2 linked regions of the Homo sapiens genome follow. The protein of the gene in region 1 interacts with the protein of each later gene in a pairwise test. Each region holds a gene or a part of one and is shown on either strand. Other genes may lie near its edges.

Region 1 (4,146 bases):
GGAAGAGTGTTGATAGAGGAAGGTGTTAAGAACATCAACCGGAATCAGCTCTAGAGATGGAGAGGGGTTGGCAGAAGCTACCTAAAAGAGAACATGCTTGATGTGGTAATGAAGTTACCTGCTTGGATTCTGGACGACCCTGGATATTTTCTCCTTTGCTAAGAAGTTAGCTTCTTTCTCTCCCTCAAAAATATTCTTCTCTTCCCTTACCTACTCCAAGGGTACAAGTGACTGGGGTATGCCTGTCACAGATGAGGTGAGGCCAAGATGTGGGCACTACGTAAGGCCTGACAGATATGGTGTAAATGTTATTTATTACCATGATTACTGTTTTGGAGATGGTCAGTGCTGTAAATAGAAAGGGAGTTAAGAGCAGACTCTGAAGCCAGACTGTCCGGAATGAATCCAGGCTCCTCTAGCTACTATCTATGTGATGTTGAAAAAATTTCTTAATTTCTCTGTGCCTCAGTTTCCTTATCATAAAATGGCAATGTTAATAGCACCCACTATGTAGAGTTCTTAGGATTAAATAAATTAATATTCGCTAAGTACTCAGTGCAAACTGTGGGCACACAGCAAGTACTACGAAAGTGTTAGGTAAAATAAAGGTGGACCAAGCCTGGTAGCACCTAGCAAGTCCAGCTTCATCTTTGCTGTGCTGAGTCGTGTAGGTGGTGTTCTTGTGTCTCTGGTTTGCTGGAGGACCTAGTTTTAGTGTATTTTAGGTATCATTAAGCATCCCCGCTCCCTCGATGGGATAGGGGTGTGTGTGTTACAGGTGGTTGTTGGGCACCTTCACGGGGCAGCGGTGACTATGGGCTGTACGTAGTATCTCGGTAGAAAGTGTTAATGCACATCCCTGGGCGGAGAGGTAACTCTACTCAATGCGTTATAAGGGAAATCACACACCTCACGGATGGTGTAGGTTCTGTCTGCTCCTTGCGTTTCAGTGGAGGTGCACAGAGCTCCGGGGGGCATCGGGGACCGCGGGCCCAGGACGTGTAGTAGGGAGCAGTGCTGTACACTTCCTCGGACCATAGCGGGGACGGCGGGTTCCACACCTGTCGGGGCAGTAGGGACTGAGCTCGTGCGCGCGGAGGATGGATTGCTCCAACCTCTCGGTCCAGCGCGCCGGCCGCCGCGTGCGAACGTGTGTGCGGCAGGAGGCTCGATCTACACCTCCTCGGGGCAGCAACGACTGCGAGCTCGGTGCGTGCCGTAGGAGGTGTCGTTACACACTTCCTGTGGGTCTCGCCGACCACGGCGCGTTTCCGGTGCCGGCTGGAGCCCGGGGTCCGAGCCCCCGCCCCGCTCGCCGGCCCCGCCCCGGCCCGCCCGCGCCCCGCCCCCTGCCCGCCCGCCGCGCTCCGAGCCGGGCGCGCGGAGCTCGGGGCGCACGGAGCGGCGCGCGGCGGTCGGCCGAGCCAGGCTGGCGCCCCCGCCCCCCGCCCCGCTCCTCGGTCCGCCGCCCGCCGGGCGCCTTCCCCGCTCCACTTACCTTTGGTGCCCGGCCCTCTGGCCGCTCTCCTCCCGCCCTCGCGCCCCTTCGGCCCGTCCCGTCCAGCCCGGGCTGCCCGGCTCTCGCAGGCCCCCCCGCGCCGACCGCGTTCCTATGGACAGACGCACAGACACCTGCAGGTGGGTGAGAGCCCGCGCGCGGGGCGGGGACGAGTGCGCCGACGCCGCGACCCAGGCGGGGAGCCCCTTTGTGTGGGGGGCGGCCGCGCCGGGGTCGACTCTGCTTCCCCGTCAGCGGCCGCGCGGTGACCCGGCTGAACCTTCCTTTTGTCTCCTCTCGGGGGAGCGAGGCCGGAGCGAGGGCAGGGACCCGGGCGGCCGCTCGTCGGCAGCGCCGGGCTTGGGGGTGCGAGGCGCAGAGACCCCCGGTGGCGGCTCCGGTCCGCCTGCCCCGGGCCGCCCCGCCGCCCGGCAGCTCGGGTCTCAGCGGCGGCTGCAGGCGCAGTGCGTGGGGCTGGCGCCCCCGCTCCTGCTCTTGGGTCTGTCGGAGGTGGGAAGGAGGGCGGGAAGGAGGAGGAAAAGGTCTGTCCTCTTAGTTTCCAAGTCTTGAGATGCTTATGGAGAAAGAGAGGTGGTTCAGGGCTCTGCCCCACTAGTTTTCCTCCTCGGGTGGCTCGCCGAGGTGCGTTTGGGGCGTGTGTGAAGGAACGTGCATGGCTTCGCTCCCTTATTTATTGTTTCTAACGGAGGAGGGCTTTCTCCAAAAGGCTCTTCCGCCCCCCCACCCCCATCTGAGGCTGCGCACAGTGATTTGTGTTTGTTATCAAATATATCGAGAAATGTATTCCCCTGGGTAGGAGGAGGTTGGACTGAACAACGTCAAACCAAAATCAAAGAATGTTTTTGGTTCCTTCAAGTCTTTTTTTTTCTTTAAGGTTTTAGATTGGGACTTTAAAAAAAATGAACGTGGCTGTGATTTTTACAATTATATGTATTTAGTGTGTGTGCGTGTGTGTGTGTGTGTGTGTGTGTGTGTTTTGAAGTTTAGGAGTAAAGTTTTGTTTTTTCCCGAACTCGTTAGGATTCGCAAGACGGAATCCTCTCCCGACGAAATAAACAGCTAACAAGCCAGTCAGGTAGTGACAGCTTCCATGGTGGAGGTTAAATTGGAGTGCAATAAACAATGATCTAGCTTTCCCTTCAGGCTGAAGCCTTTATTTCTGCTGATTTAAGATATGAGATCTTTCCCTACCCATGAGACCATGAATGTCAGAATTGAGTTTCCCCTCTAGGATTGTGCCTTTACTATTTTATTCCACGTATATAACCCAACGATTGGGTTGTGCATGGATATGGATACAGTGTTTTGAAAAATACTGTAGGGTGATGTTTCTGAATTGTCTTATTTGATTAGCTAGCTAAGTTTCTTCATGAACGGTTGCTGTGTATTGTAGATACTCAAATAATAAATGAGGTTGAATAAGCACCCAGAAAATTAATTTTACAGATTCAGATTTTTAATACGCAGGTATGGATTTATGCCTGTATCAATCTCAATCTACTGCTCCGTTCTGGAAACTCTTTTTTGCCCACCCTGTGAGAATTTATATTGACAAAGTTAAGTCTGACAGTTACCCAGGAGATTAAAAAAACGAAGAAGCAGTTTTGGGGGCCATGCATACAATTATATGGACAGTCATATGTAAAAAATAGAGGTTTTCCTAAAAAAACAAAAAGCATTATCATCTAAACTTGAAGGAAAAACGTGGAAAATTATGTATTTAAATTTTCATTAAGGTTTGAAAATTAGTAAACAGTGTACAATTTAATGCACTTTTTTAAAGACAAACTGATTTTTGTCATTATAAAAAGTTTAGTATGCTTAAAATAGTGCTTTTTTCTAGGAGAAAAATTTATCTAGATTCTTGTCCCAGTTAAACAGATTAATATTATTGCATGCCTAATTTTGTAAATGCCTGGAGCGTAGATTTGTACACACATTACTTAAAACCTAGCAGTGATCAAGCCAATCCTTTTTAGTTGATAAAATTTTACTAGTTTCTGCTTTGACTTCCAGTCTGCATTAGGTAAATGAATTTAAATTCTGCACAGAAGCACAGCTCAGTATGTGGCTCTGGTAGGCCCTTGACTAGCGTTCCTTGTCCCTCTCCATTCCTAGTAATAGCCCAAAGAGAAGAGGTATTGAAATTTGATCAGGCTTTATCGTGAATCCAGGAATGGAGTTCTAGACCACTCTCAGAATTTCAGCACTTAGATATACGTACTCTTCCTTAGCTCTTTAAAATATTTAAAAAAGATAAGCTAACGATTGAATTGCTTGTTTATATATTTACAAGGCTGTCAGTGGTAGTGATAAGATTTAACAAAGAGTCACTGTGTAGCTAAGCATCGAGTGTGGCCTGTACTGAGAATTGTTTTGGCAAAGTTGTAGTTGTGCCTGTTTTCTGAGATCATCAATGTAGTCTTTATGTGGGCTGGCTGAAAGATAACACCTAGTTTTGTTTATGTTTTTGTGTTTTTTTTTTTTTGACTGATAGGTAGATAAGAATTTTTTGTTTTTTGTGTAATTAGCAATAATATTTTAGTGTGATCAGAAGCATTCCAGAGAACCTTACATATTTTCAGCTGATTTCCTTTCTGGTAAGTTGGTGTTGAGGAAAGCATATA
Region 2 (3,500 bases), on another chromosome or scaffold:
TTTCTCCTGACTGACTCAGGGCTCAGGATATGCCCTAGAGAGACCGTGGGCCTCCGTCCAGCCTGCAAGGTCCCGGCTAGTTCTAAGAGCCAAATACCAATTTTGGCTAAGGGTGAGAGGCTCTGAGGCTGGGGTGGACACTCTCACCTGTCCCTGTCCTAGCTCAGCCACTAACACCATGTGGCATCACACAACAGACTGGCCTGTGTGGCCCTAGTTCCTGTCTATGAGATAGGGACATAGCAGGGTGTGGCTGGGCTCTGAGAAGTAGGAGATGCTGGTGGACTCAGGATTCCTGGCATTTGCTGGCTTTTTTCATTCTTCTGCTGTCTGGTCTGCTCAGCCGGCTCCCTGCAAGCATGACCAGGGACTGCTGGGTGCTCAATGCAGGGCTGGGTTAGCCCGGCTCCCTCCCGAGAGAAGCCCACAGCCCTAGGTCAAGATAAGCCAGTGCCCAGCTGCCTGTGATATGAAGCAGGAGGCAGATGCGATAAGAGGTGTCAGGGCGGGCCCGGGAACTTTTGAACTTAAGGGGTGGGAGGGCCAGGAAGGCATCAGGGAGGAGGTTTCGTAGGAGCCTGAATGTGGAGACACTGCAGAGGGAAGGGGCAGAGGGACTGTGTGAGCAAGCACAGGCTAGGAGGAGGTGAGGGCCGTGGTACGGGAGTTGTTGGGTATGGTCAGGCTGGGGGTGCATGGGAGGAGGGTGGTGAGGGCTCAGGATTCGGGCCAGGGGCTGCATCCGGGGGAAGGGGTCTGGATTCCCAGAGCCTGTGATTTCAGCCCGCTGGGCTCAGGCAGAGGGCAAAGCTACCCTCTTCGGGGTCTTCTCCCAGCCCTGCTAATTCCAGGCCTGACTGCTCAAGAAGTGTTTCTACCTGCAGCATCAGGGGCCTGACTGAAGCCCTAAGTTCTCCCCTTTATCCCGTTTTTCTGGGCTTCAGTTTCCCCAGTCATAGAGTGAGAGGCCTCTTCATGCCACCAGTTCTCCCGGGGGTGCTGCTGCCTCCTCCAGAGCTCAGGGGAGGGATGGGGAAAGGAAGGCAGAGTTTCCATGTCCCTGCCCAGCCCGTCCTGCCCAGGGAGGGGCTGGGGGCTGGGTGGTGATGCCACATCTGGGACATATAATTACTGTTTCCGCCAGCCCCAGATGAGGGGGAGGGCACAGAGATGGGGAGCTTTGTGGTGGAGACTTCCCTCACCATGGAAAATCCTGACGCTGCTTCCCCTTTAGGGACCTCAGAACAGCCCAGCCGGTCCCAGTGTTGCCCACCCTGATGCTTGGCCCTGACTGGGATTTGCCCTGGGAACTCTGAAGGGGCCATGCTTTGAGAGGGGACACGGCCTCCTGGGATACCTGTCTGAGGGGCTCACCCCCTGCTCACCACTCCCAGGCCACAGCCTCCTGTCACACCTTGCCTTCCCTTCTCCACCCCAGGCAACCTTCTAGCAGCATGAAGTGGCCATTAGCTCACTGCAAGCCAATTCCAGATGGTACCCCCACTTAGTCTAGGGCCCCCACCCAGCAGGGGCCATGGCCCTTACCTTCTGGAAGCACCAATGAGTCTGGAGTCTCCTGAGTGGCTGGGATCTGAGCCCTCACACCGGGAGGTGAAGGCAGGAAAATGCTGTCCGCGAGGCCCTGCAAGTGGCCAGGATCCCCTCAGTCAGGGCTTCCCCATGGGGATGAGAGGGGCTCCTTGCCCACATGGAGTGGTGCCCAGGGGGATCATGAGGGGCTGTCTTCACTCAGCCAGGAGCTACAGTTCTGTGGGGTGGGCAGACTCTGAGGCTGAAATCTCCAACTTAAAAGATATCCGGAAAGGCCGGAAAATGCCCCCGGCCCTTCCAGCAGCTCCTTTCAGTGCCTGCAATCTCGCTGTCAGGGCCCCTTGAAAGGCAGATTTCTACTCAGTGTAAAGAAGGTTGTTGTTGATATTGTTGTTGACACGAAGAAGGGGCTGTCTCTAAGTCAATAAGCTCCCTGCCATTAGGGGTGTGCAAGTAGATGCTTTCTGGTGAGGAGGCTGCTTTGGGGGTGCTAGTCTATGCGGGGGTCCAGTGGGGTGGGTGACAGGTTCTGCAGCATAGGCTTTGTGTCATGCTGAGATCAGCAATTCTGATGGCCTGCGGGGGATCCTGTGCTTAGGTTTCTGGATCTGGGGCTGGAGAGTGACCACCCCGATGTGAGGCAGGAGGCACTTTTGGAGACTGCGGGGGCTCGAATCTGGGCCAAGGCCTCCATTTTACTGATGGGGAAACTGAAGCCCACAGAGGCGTGGAGACTTGTCAAGGTGGCACTGCCTCCTAGCCCTTGATTATTCCTGCTGCTCCAAAGTGTACACACATGGCACAAACACAAACATGCACACACATGTGCTCTTACGTGGAGGACACACACACATGGTACACAAAGCACATTCTCAAGACTGGGTGGTCCCACTCAGACTCTGGGACCCAAGGAGGGTTGGGCGGGGATTCCTCAATGGAGCCTTTTCCTCTCCCTGCCCTGGAGTTAGGAAAAGAAGGAGGGAGGGAGGGAGGAAGCCATTGCTTTGTGTATTGTTTCTTGTCAGGAAGATGAAATGGCTTCTGGGAGCAAATAAAGGCCTTGTTGAGACCTGCTGCTTTCTCACATGGGGGGCTCATTTTTTTCTCTTCTCTTCCCTCTCTAGCTGGTAGTGGCAGCTATGTGGGTGTGTGACACAGGGAGACAGTGAGGCACCCAGAAGTGCCATCAGACATACCAGTGCAAACACACAGCACAGCCTCCAGGACCTCATGTCCTGCAGGGATGCCTGTATGATATAGCTGTTCCCAGGGAGGCCGAGGCACTTGGTCAGTACCTCATCAGTTGATGAAAAAGAGTGTGCATTCTCTAATTCAGGGGTACAGGGTTTTCATATTTTTCTGAAGTCAAGCTTGTTAATTATGGGGTTCAAACCCTCCCTGATCATGTTATTGGTAGTTTTCGGCTGCTTCATTTATTCTGTACATTTCTAATAGAAGATTGTTAACATTTTTCACTCTGGTGGTAGGGTGATCCAGTCCTCCTTGTAATTTTGTCAATTTTCCCCTCATTTATTTTTAGGCTATGTTGTTTGGTGCATACAAGTGGGGGATTTTTGCAGTTCCTTTATAGATTTTTATTTTTTTTTTTGAGACGGAGTCTCACTCTGTCGCCCAGGCTGGAGTGCAGTGGCACCATCTCGGCTCACTGCAAGTTCTGCCTCCCGGGTTTATGCCATTCTCCCACCTCAGCCTCCCGAGTAGCTGGGACCACAGGCCACCACACCCGGCTAATTTTGTTTTTGTATTTTTAGTAGAGACGGGGTTTAACCGTGTTAGCCAGGATGGTCTCGATCTCCTGACCTTGTGATCCACCCGCCTTGGCTTCTCAGAGTGCTGGGATTACAGGCGTGAGCCACCGCGCCTGGCCAGTTCTTTTATAGATTTTTAAAATGTAATTATTGTGTAATAAACCACTTACAATCTAACAA

The links. The genes of interacting proteins can lie anywhere in the genome.
Region 2: the proteins of KIAA1958 (region 1) and AQP1 interact in binary tests that used the Homo sapiens proteins (3 or more experiments, as listed by UniProt).

The regions. Positions count from the first base shown.
Region 1 is NC_000009.12:112,485,481-112,489,626, forward strand, and holds the start of KIAA1958 (uncharacterized protein KIAA1958), read left to right. Parts: upstream 1-1,346; 5' UTR 1,347-1,638; exon of another isoform or gene 1,639-2,164; intron 2,165-4,146.
Region 2 is NC_000007.14:30,914,853-30,918,352, forward strand, and holds part of AQP1 (aquaporin-1), read left to right. Parts: intron 1-3,500. UniProt on the Homo sapiens protein: Forms a water channel that facilitates the transport of water across cell membranes, playing a crucial role in water homeostasis in various tissues.